3 separate regions of the Homo sapiens genome follow, and all the other regions are linked to region 3. Evidence: fine-mapped expression QTL. A gene starts in region 3. Each other region holds a variant in brackets. All regions are shown on one strand. Distances are from middle to middle.

Region 1 (2,761 bases), 96 kb after region 3:
TTATCACGATGAGAGTGAATTTGCTATTGAGCATATTCCTTTTTTGGTGTCCTAAACTCCACCAGTCCTAAGAAAAGGGCAGAGTTGCCCCAGCTAGAGTCAGGTGCTTATCATCATTTTGTTTAACCTTGAAATAATTCTTACTTCGTAAGCACAGAATTCACTGCATAAATTAGACCAAGGGGAATTAGAACAATGTGTGTGTGACTGTGTGCACACATGTCTCCGTAATGAATGTGGAGTTACATATATTCAGCACGTCTGTGTAAGCGCCCAGAGACTTATTGTATGCCTGAAAAATAGAGCCCAGAGAGGCATAAAGCTATTTATTTGGAAGAAATTAGACTGTTTTTTATGATTCTGAAAAGGTTAAGGCAGAAGATAGGTGGCTGCGTAGAGGGAGTTATGACTTGCGCATTTTGATTCATCTTTTCTTATTAAAAGCCGCCTCTCCAGCTGCTGTACTTTCATCACCCTGCATGCCTCCATCCCTGGGCCAGAGGGGTTTCCACATCACCACAGAGGCAGGCCTTCCTTCATTTTATTTATTCCATTTGGGATTAAACACATTGAAAGGGGGCCATGGCTAAATGGGTGTTTCTCGCCTGGCTCGGTACTTAGAAATCAAAGAAGGAGCTTCATGGTGTATGTGGAAGGGGATGGAGTGTAGAGAGGAGGAGGTGGTTTCTGCAGACAGGCAGCTCTTCCCATCTTCCCAGGAGCAAAGATTAGTTCCCTGGGCCCAGGCCTCAGTGGCAGGGGGCCAAGGAAAGCAGGCCCAAGGCCTTTCCTAACTCTTAGCCCCCAGGGATTGGCACATGCCACGGGGAAAGTGAAAAACATTTTACAAAACAGGCTAGACACGTGCCACATAGCTGTGTCCTTAGAAACTTCCACACAGATCCCTGTTGGAGGCTCTTCTCCCTGTGCTGTGGCTCCCCAAAGCCTGCTTCGTTGCTGCAGGGACCTTAAGAATCCGAGGGGATTCACAGAGCCCTGGGGATTGCAACGGGATTACCGGGGAGGGATACAGGCAAAATCCCCTGAGAGGCCTGCAATGTGCTGCAGGCCTGGGGCCTTCCTGGCAGGATGGATATCTCTATTCCTGGAGCCAAAAGTTCTGGGATCTGCAGAAAGGGATCCCTCGGGGACTATAATGAATGCCGTGTTCCAGCAGTGCCAGCTCGGTTCAGCTGCTTGATTAATGACATATGAGAGGTCTCACGGCAAATTTAACAGGAGGGCGCACCCTCACACAGTGCCTGCCCTGGATAAGATCCGGCACCTCACACCCTGCAGGAGACTGGAGGGGCTCACAGAACTCCTTCCCGAGCTCGGGATCCAGGGCGAAGCCTGTGAAGAGCCCGCCTGGGTCTCAGGTTCTGAGTCTTGAGTGCATAACAATGCGCCCCAGAGCCCGCCGAGGGGAGAACTAGCTCCATCTGCTCCTTCCCAATTCTCGGCTCCGGCGAGGGGGAGGGGGATCCCTCGGCGGTTAGGCCGGGTCCTGCACGGTTATTGGCTGACACATTTTCAAAGCTACTCTCAAAGGCTTTTATGAAAATGCTGTTGCCGGGCAGCAGCTGAAGCCATTTGCCCTAGAAAATGGATGGAAGCAGGTGTAACCACTCACCCCA[A/G]CATGACCCCCAAAACATTCCCCGCGACACACACGCTAGTCTACAGTGTGTTACTTTGTCCCTGTATATTTCAATAAGCGCACCAATCTGACACCTCAGCATTCCTCCCCGAAAACGTAACCATGAGCATTGTTCTTCCTGGTTTCTCTTTCAAGAGAAAGGAGGTGCCAGTCCAGGGTGGTATTCCAAGAGACACCCCAGGTTCAGCCTCGGGCTGCCTCTGGCGGCAGAAGACACAGGGTGCATCTTCCGTCTTCTAATTCCCATAGCTTTCAGGAGATAGCAGAATTGCTGGAAGTCATGAGTGTCTTAGAAAGACTGAATGCTTTTTGTTAGAGTTCTCATTCTACTAAGTACACAAAACCGAACAGCATTTAAAAATTAATGCAATGTCTAATTTTTGTTAACTGATGAAATTTCATATTTCAAAGTGCTTTGAATTTGAAGCTTTGTATTCAAAAGGACTCTTACAATCATCTAATTTGATCATCATGATAGTCCAGTGGACTACTTACATTGGAGGAAATTAAGACACCAGAAAAAAGTAATTATTTAAGGATTCATCATGTGTAACATAGCAGAACTGGGATTCAAGTGCAAGTTTTCCAAATCCCAGTCCAATATTCTAAGCTTCCCCATTGTAATGAATGAGTTACATATATTATGAATCATTGTAACAAATTCATCATATAAATTTACCCAACATGTTTGTCATGTTTTCTTGAGAAGGTTTTAAATGTGTCAAATGTGACATTTAGGTCCTCTTCTTCACCTACTTGTAGCTCCATCCCAAATGAGGCAAATAAGTGAAATTAATGGCATGGGGCGGAATAGCAGGGTTTTGAGTTGATGGACAACAGGCAACCATTGCATTTCTTTGAGCAGAATTGTGACATCATAAATCAGCATTTTAGGAAACCTCATTGGGCAGCAGGCATCAGATGACTTCTGTGACTTCCTAAGTAGATATTACATGTATCCATGACTTCCTAAAGAAATTCAGTTCTTCAATATTGTTATCCAACCCCTAAGTGATAATAGCAATGGGAATTTCAGGCCAGGTCAAAGGCACAGGTCACTGAGAGATGACTCCAAGGAAAGGCAGGGTGGAGTTATCAGCTCCC
Region 2 (2,761 bases), 20 kb after region 3:
AAAATTTCTCTAATAATAGAAGGGGACTCCCCCACTTCTCCTTCCTGTATAGGCAGCAGAAAAAGAAATCTGACTATATTCCCTGGTCTGGCAAGATGTTCGATAAGTCTAAACCTGGAAAAAAACCCCAAAGAGTCCCTAGGGTTGCATCAAAATATAACCTGGCTCTGGGCCCAGGACAGAGCAGCTCTGGCTTCCTAGCGAAGGGTTAGGACTGTGGGAAGGAATGAAAGGAAGGACCGGAAAGGCTGAGGTCCTGGACTGGAGGGGGAGGTGAGAGCATCTGCAGCTGAGGCGCATTCAAGCTTGAAGTGCAGGGGATGTGGTGGGAGGTCAGGAGAGTGGTATGGGGAGAGGACCAGTAGCCATGGCAACAGGAGGGTCTTCCTTTGCCACTGAGGCAAAGGTGAACTCGGGGGGAGGTAGCCAAGCAAGGTATAGGGAGAGGCCAAGTAAGTGGTGGTCTTTGCCATCCATTGATTGTGTCCTTTCCTGCCCATTGTATGCTGGGCAGCAACATTTTAGGCATGGGAATGAAAGACTCGATTTTTCAGGGACGCGGCTATAGAGGTGAGTCATGGAACTATGGGGTATTCCCATTGTGCTCCCTTAGGTACAGGTGGCTGAGGAGTCCTCGGTCAGCAGGTGAAAGCATCATTCAAAGCTACAATTGAGGCAAATACCAGTGATTACAGCTGATTGAGGAACCTAAGAAGACTTCATGGAGGAAGTGGACCTTGAAGGATGGATAGGATTTAAACATTTAAAGGCCAAGCTTTACAGGATACTGTAGCTAGATATTATTCCTTTTTGTAGCTCTACCTCTCACAGCTCTAACACAGCAGATGCTCAAAAATGTTTGCTTAACTGAATTGGATTCCAGGTATAGGAAACAGTATAAGTAAAGTCAAGGGATGAGAAAGGGAGTGGGGTGTTATGTGTTGAGGCCTCAAGGAGAAATCCTGTTTGTTGGTTATAGCAGGCACAAAAGGAATCAGTCAACAGAAGATATGCTGAAAAAGAAAGCTGAGGCCAGAGCTGAAACTTGGAGATGGCTGATGAGTCCTCCAGCTCCCTGAGGACAGGGAGAGGCCAGGACATTTATCCTGGCCTGCCTAGTGATGGGCTCAGGGCCTATTGCAGGATAGGTGCACAAAAACTATTTAAATGAATGAAAGAATATAAAAAGTCACCCATTAGCAAAAAGTTCACCACTGTGTTCCTTCAAATCCAATGTCCTGTAGTCCATTTAATTTAGGACTCGGTGCACATAAATTAGTTTGCACAAAATTTTTAGAATGAAAACCATGGATGTAATAACTGCTTTAGAACATGAATCTGGGTCTGAATCCCACTTAACCTTTCAGGGCAACACTTCTTTTTGATTCCTATGTTTTCATGAGAAGGGGTTGCCCTAAAGTTATAATTGTG[A/G]CTTCTCTCCCCAACTTTCCCCCTAAATCTAGTAAGCCCTACCCATAGAAGTAGCAACTCATTGCTTGGTGAGTTTAGAAAAAGGAACCAGACATACTCACTTCTCTTCAGGAGTGGCCTGTCCCCAGGAGACCCACAATTCCTACTCTATGGTAAGTTTAGTGGAGCCTGAGAGGAAGTCTGCAGTTTGAGAATTAAGTTCAATTCAGGAGAATCTGTTAGCACACCCATTTGGCAGCATGTGGCTCTTAGCCAAGCCCTCAAAACCAGCTTTTTCTGTAATAAAGCTGACGTTTTCATCATCAGGTATCTGACTCCTGTGTCAAAGGGTTCTGAACTCAGGAAGTGAGTGAAAAGCAGAGGTGTTAGTTACTGGCTCCCTCAAACCCCAGCTATTACTGGCTTGAGAATTTCCTTACCAGGAAAATGGATATGATGATAATATCCGTCATGTAGAGTTTAGTGAAGATTGAAAAAGATAATATGTTTGATGTTCGGTAAATGTTTGTTCTCTTTACTTCCCTGTTTGAAACCCTCTCTTTTAAGCATTTTCCCCATGAAGGCAGGGGGATATTGTACCCCTCTGCATATATCCCCTCTATATGTCTAGCATGTATTTGGATGTTCTGTAAATGTTAAAAAGGTGGAAATGATTATTGCAGGGAGGCCCAGCAAGTGAGTCATTTATGCCCATATTTTTTAAAATAGCTTTAGTGAGGGATAATCAACATACAGTTAACATGGTTGAAGTGGACAACTTGACAAGTTTTGACATAGGCAAACACCTAGTGAAATCATCACAATCAAAAGAGTGGGCGCATCCACTATCCCGAAAGTCTCTCATGCCTCTGTGTAATCCCTGCTCCCCTCCTCCCCACCCTCCTAGCCCCAGGCAACCACTGATCTGCTTTCTGTCACTATGGATTAGTTTGCATTTTTTAGAGTTGTATATAAATGGAATCATATAGTATATTCTCTCTCTTCTTTTTTGTCTGTCTGCCCATATTTTTGAAGAGCAATAAGCACTCATCATTGAATGCTGAAATACTGATCTTGGAGCCCAGAGTCCAGGACTGTTGTTCTGGTTAGACAGCAACATGTTGTTTGACCTTAGACAAGTCATATAACCTTTGTGTGCCTCAATTCCCCTTATCTGCACTATGGTAGGGAATAATTGTGTCTGCTCTACCCCCCAGATTTATTTAAGGTGGAAATACTGCATAAGGTATAATACTAAAAAATGGATAATAAACAAGCCATAAAATATTTCTGTATAAGTAGCTAGATGATATTTGGCAATATTAATGTATGTGTGTGTCTGTCTGTGTCT
Region 3 (2,761 bases):
ACTAGAAAACTTCAAGTGGTCTTGGATTCTGTCCTAGCCCTGGATGCACGTGCAATGAATCCCGAGGTGGGAGAGTCTGGGAACTAGGCATTCATGCCCTGTGTGCCCTCATCCGTGGATGGACTTGGAGCCCTGGAGCCACCTACCCACTCACCCATGAGCCAAGTAGTCATAACAGACCAGCAACAAGTCCCACTAAAATCTCTAGGGAGGTGTTGCCAAGGTCCACTTAGCGTGTCCTGGCTTCTCCCTGTATTTCCCTCCTCATGACTCCCTTCCCACTCCCTTCCCTCTCGGAGCCCTGAGCTGGTCAGCAACACTTACTTCTCTTTGCTGTGTTTACTGCCCCACTCGAACTTGCCAGTACTCCCAGTATCGCAGCCCAGCTCTGATTTGTGAAGAAAGATCCCCAGACGTGTCTTGAACTCTTTGGCTCTGAAAAACAAATCAGGAACATGAAAGCATTCTCTCATTTGCTCAGCCAGTGTGGAGAGGTTTATGGGTCCCAGAAGAGCTCTGGGTGGTGCCACCCAAACTTTAGCCTCAAGAGTTCCTGGAAACTCTTGGCTGTCCCCAGGCCAAGAGTGCTTCTCTTATCAGCATCATCAACCCCAAAGCAACAAAAGCAATGTTTGAGCTATGCTGTGGTAGGTCTTACACTTTCTGGGTAATACACACGCTGCATATATGGGCTTTTCCCTAAAGTCACACTGATCTCTCTTCGTGCCTGTTGATTCAGAAAAGAACTCAGCATTCTTTTCAGAAGTATTTCTGAACTGTGTGGGAAACTGATTCCTGCCTTCATCTTTACTTTTTCCTTCCCAGCCAGTAAGGATTGGAAGCTGTTGAGTAGCTCTCTGGAATATGGACACACCCTCAACAGTGGGAGCCCCCACCCCCACACACCCCACCAAAAAAAAAAAAATCTCCCTGTCTTCCAGGGGCAGAGGAGGCAATGCCCCTAGCTCTGGTCTGAGGAATGAAAAACAAATGCTTAAGAAATGGGCAGGCTCAGTGCTGCCTGGAAATGTCAACGTGGCCTTCCCGCAGCCGGGTCTTCAGCAGGTCACCTGAGCACGACTGCAGTTTGTCAGAGGATGGGGATGGCAGCAAGCCGCGGGCCCTTGCTTCCCTTCCCCTTGCTTTCTCCCTGCTCCTGGAATCTGAGCACGTGGCATCAAGTGCGCTTCTACCTCTCTACTCAAGCCTCTAGCGCCCCATCCCCGCGCCCACCCAGGTCCCCAGGCCTGCCGCTCCACTCCCTAAGAGTTGGTGGGACTTCCCCCAAGCAGTTGGACAACCTCCCCTTACCTCTCCAGGCAGGTGGTGGGGAAGGCGGCCAGGGTGCGGCACATGGCTGCGGGCGCAGGGCAGCACGTAGTAGGCAGGATGGTGGCAGGCTCCAGGAGGCTCCGCGTGCGCCAGGAAGCAAAGGCGCGGTAGCAGGTGCTAGTCAACTGCGGTTGGGTTTAGCAGCCTGCAAGCGCCCAGACTGAGCGGCCGCTGCTTTAAATCCCCTCGGAGGAGCGGGGCGGGGCTGGGCACTGCTGACCAATCGGAGGGTGGGGCTGGGCGCTGAGAAGGCGGAGGCGGGGCCCGCAGCCAGACTGGGCCGGGTGCAACTTTCGCGGCAGCTGGAGCACGCGGAGCTGCACCCTCCGCCCAGAGGACGCCGCGTGTGGAAGGAAAAGCGGCAAGAGAATTGGCACGGGGATGAGACGTGCACACCCAGTTTCCTAGGGAAAAGTACCTGCCGACCTCTAGTAACAGCAGGAAAGTCACGCAGCGGTGTCGTGTTGAGAGAGTTTGCACGGGGGTGGTGGGTCTGGGAGGCACACAGGGCTTTCTTTGATCGCAGGCAAGTCTGAGCCTGCTGGGTCCTGAGGACAGGCGCACAGGGTGCAAACCTGGGCAAAACAGCATCTGATTATACTGATAAGTACCCTTTACGAGGCTCTTACCATGATGGACACGGGGCTAAGTAAGCTCTTCATCATCATCTCCATTTTATAGATGAAGAAATCGAGAATCAGAAAGCTAAATAAACTTGTCCAAGATCACAGTTGGAGATGACAGAAAAGTGGAATAGGGATGAGTAGTTTATTGAACACCTACTATGTGCTAGGCACATAAGTAAGACTTGCTCAAAGTCTTAGTTATTAAATAACTTGCTCAAAGATGTGCAGCTAGTAAGTGTTGGCTCCAAAATTCAAATGTGAATTTGCCATTCTTTTTCCATTGCACACACACACACACACACACACACACACACCACACACACACACAAAGGTTAGTACCCGGTCACGGCTATACCTGTGGACGATCCTGGGTTTAAGCAGTTAATACCTTATTGTCTCCATCTCTGACATAAAGGTAATAAATGCCCTTCCTCTCACCTCATCTTCCCATAAAGGCATTGGGATTGCTATTAAGAGGCTGTATGTGAGGTTAAAAGTACAGGGTCTAGAGTTAGATTTTCAGGTTTCAAGTCATGGCTCTGCCAGGTGACCTGCTGAAGACCCAGCTGCAGGAAGGCCACGTTCACTGTTAACTGGCTACTGATGGGAGACGAGGCAAACTGCTTAACCTTTCTATGCCTCCATTTCCTTGTCTCTACGAAGAGAACAACTTATTTCATAAGGTGGTTGTGAGAACTAAATAAATTAATTCTTAGTTTGAGTTCCTAGGAACTAGACTCGGGTAGACACTTGCATGCAGGAGGTTTACTGGGGAGAGTTATCAGAATTAAGAGGGAGTAAAG

Alleles and levels. Alleles are on the strand shown, and positions count from the first base shown. SD is a standard deviation of normalised expression in the study named. Not every link is listed here.
As copies of G replace A in region 1, the expression in fibroblasts of the gene that starts at base 1,485 in region 3 goes up (large effect, 0.76 SD a copy in GENCORD).

Evidence for each region. PIP is the estimated chance that this variant, and not a neighbour inherited with it, causes the effect. A credible set is the group of variants that fine-mapping cannot tell apart.
Region 1: its variant is the best candidate, but not a certain one, in a credible set for the expression of RGS16 in fibroblasts (GENCORD, PIP 0.52).
Region 2: its variant is the best candidate, but not a certain one, in a credible set for the expression of RGS16 in whole blood (TOPMed, PIP 0.54).

The regions. Positions count from the first base shown.
Region 1 is chr1:182,698,691-182,701,451 of GRCh38, forward strand. It overlaps a transcript of RGS8 not described here. Among named protein-coding and RNA genes, the nearest start is that of LINC01688, 13 kb to the right of the region's middle. The variant A/G (reference allele first, on the strand shown) is at 1,638.
Region 2 is chr1:182,623,101-182,625,861 of GRCh38, forward strand. No RefSeq gene overlaps it. Among named protein-coding and RNA genes, the nearest start is that of LINC01686, 9.3 kb to the left of the region's middle. The variant A/G (reference allele first, on the strand shown) is at 1,432.
Region 3 is chr1:182,602,905-182,605,665 of GRCh38, forward strand. It overlaps RGS16 (regulator of G protein signaling 16), which reads right to left and starts at 1,485. Exons shown (of 5, transcript NM_002928.4): 1 at 1,312-1,485; 2 at 325-435. The coding sequence starts at 1,355. RefSeq lists enhancers at 1,050-1,109, 1,200-1,249, 1,720-1,799.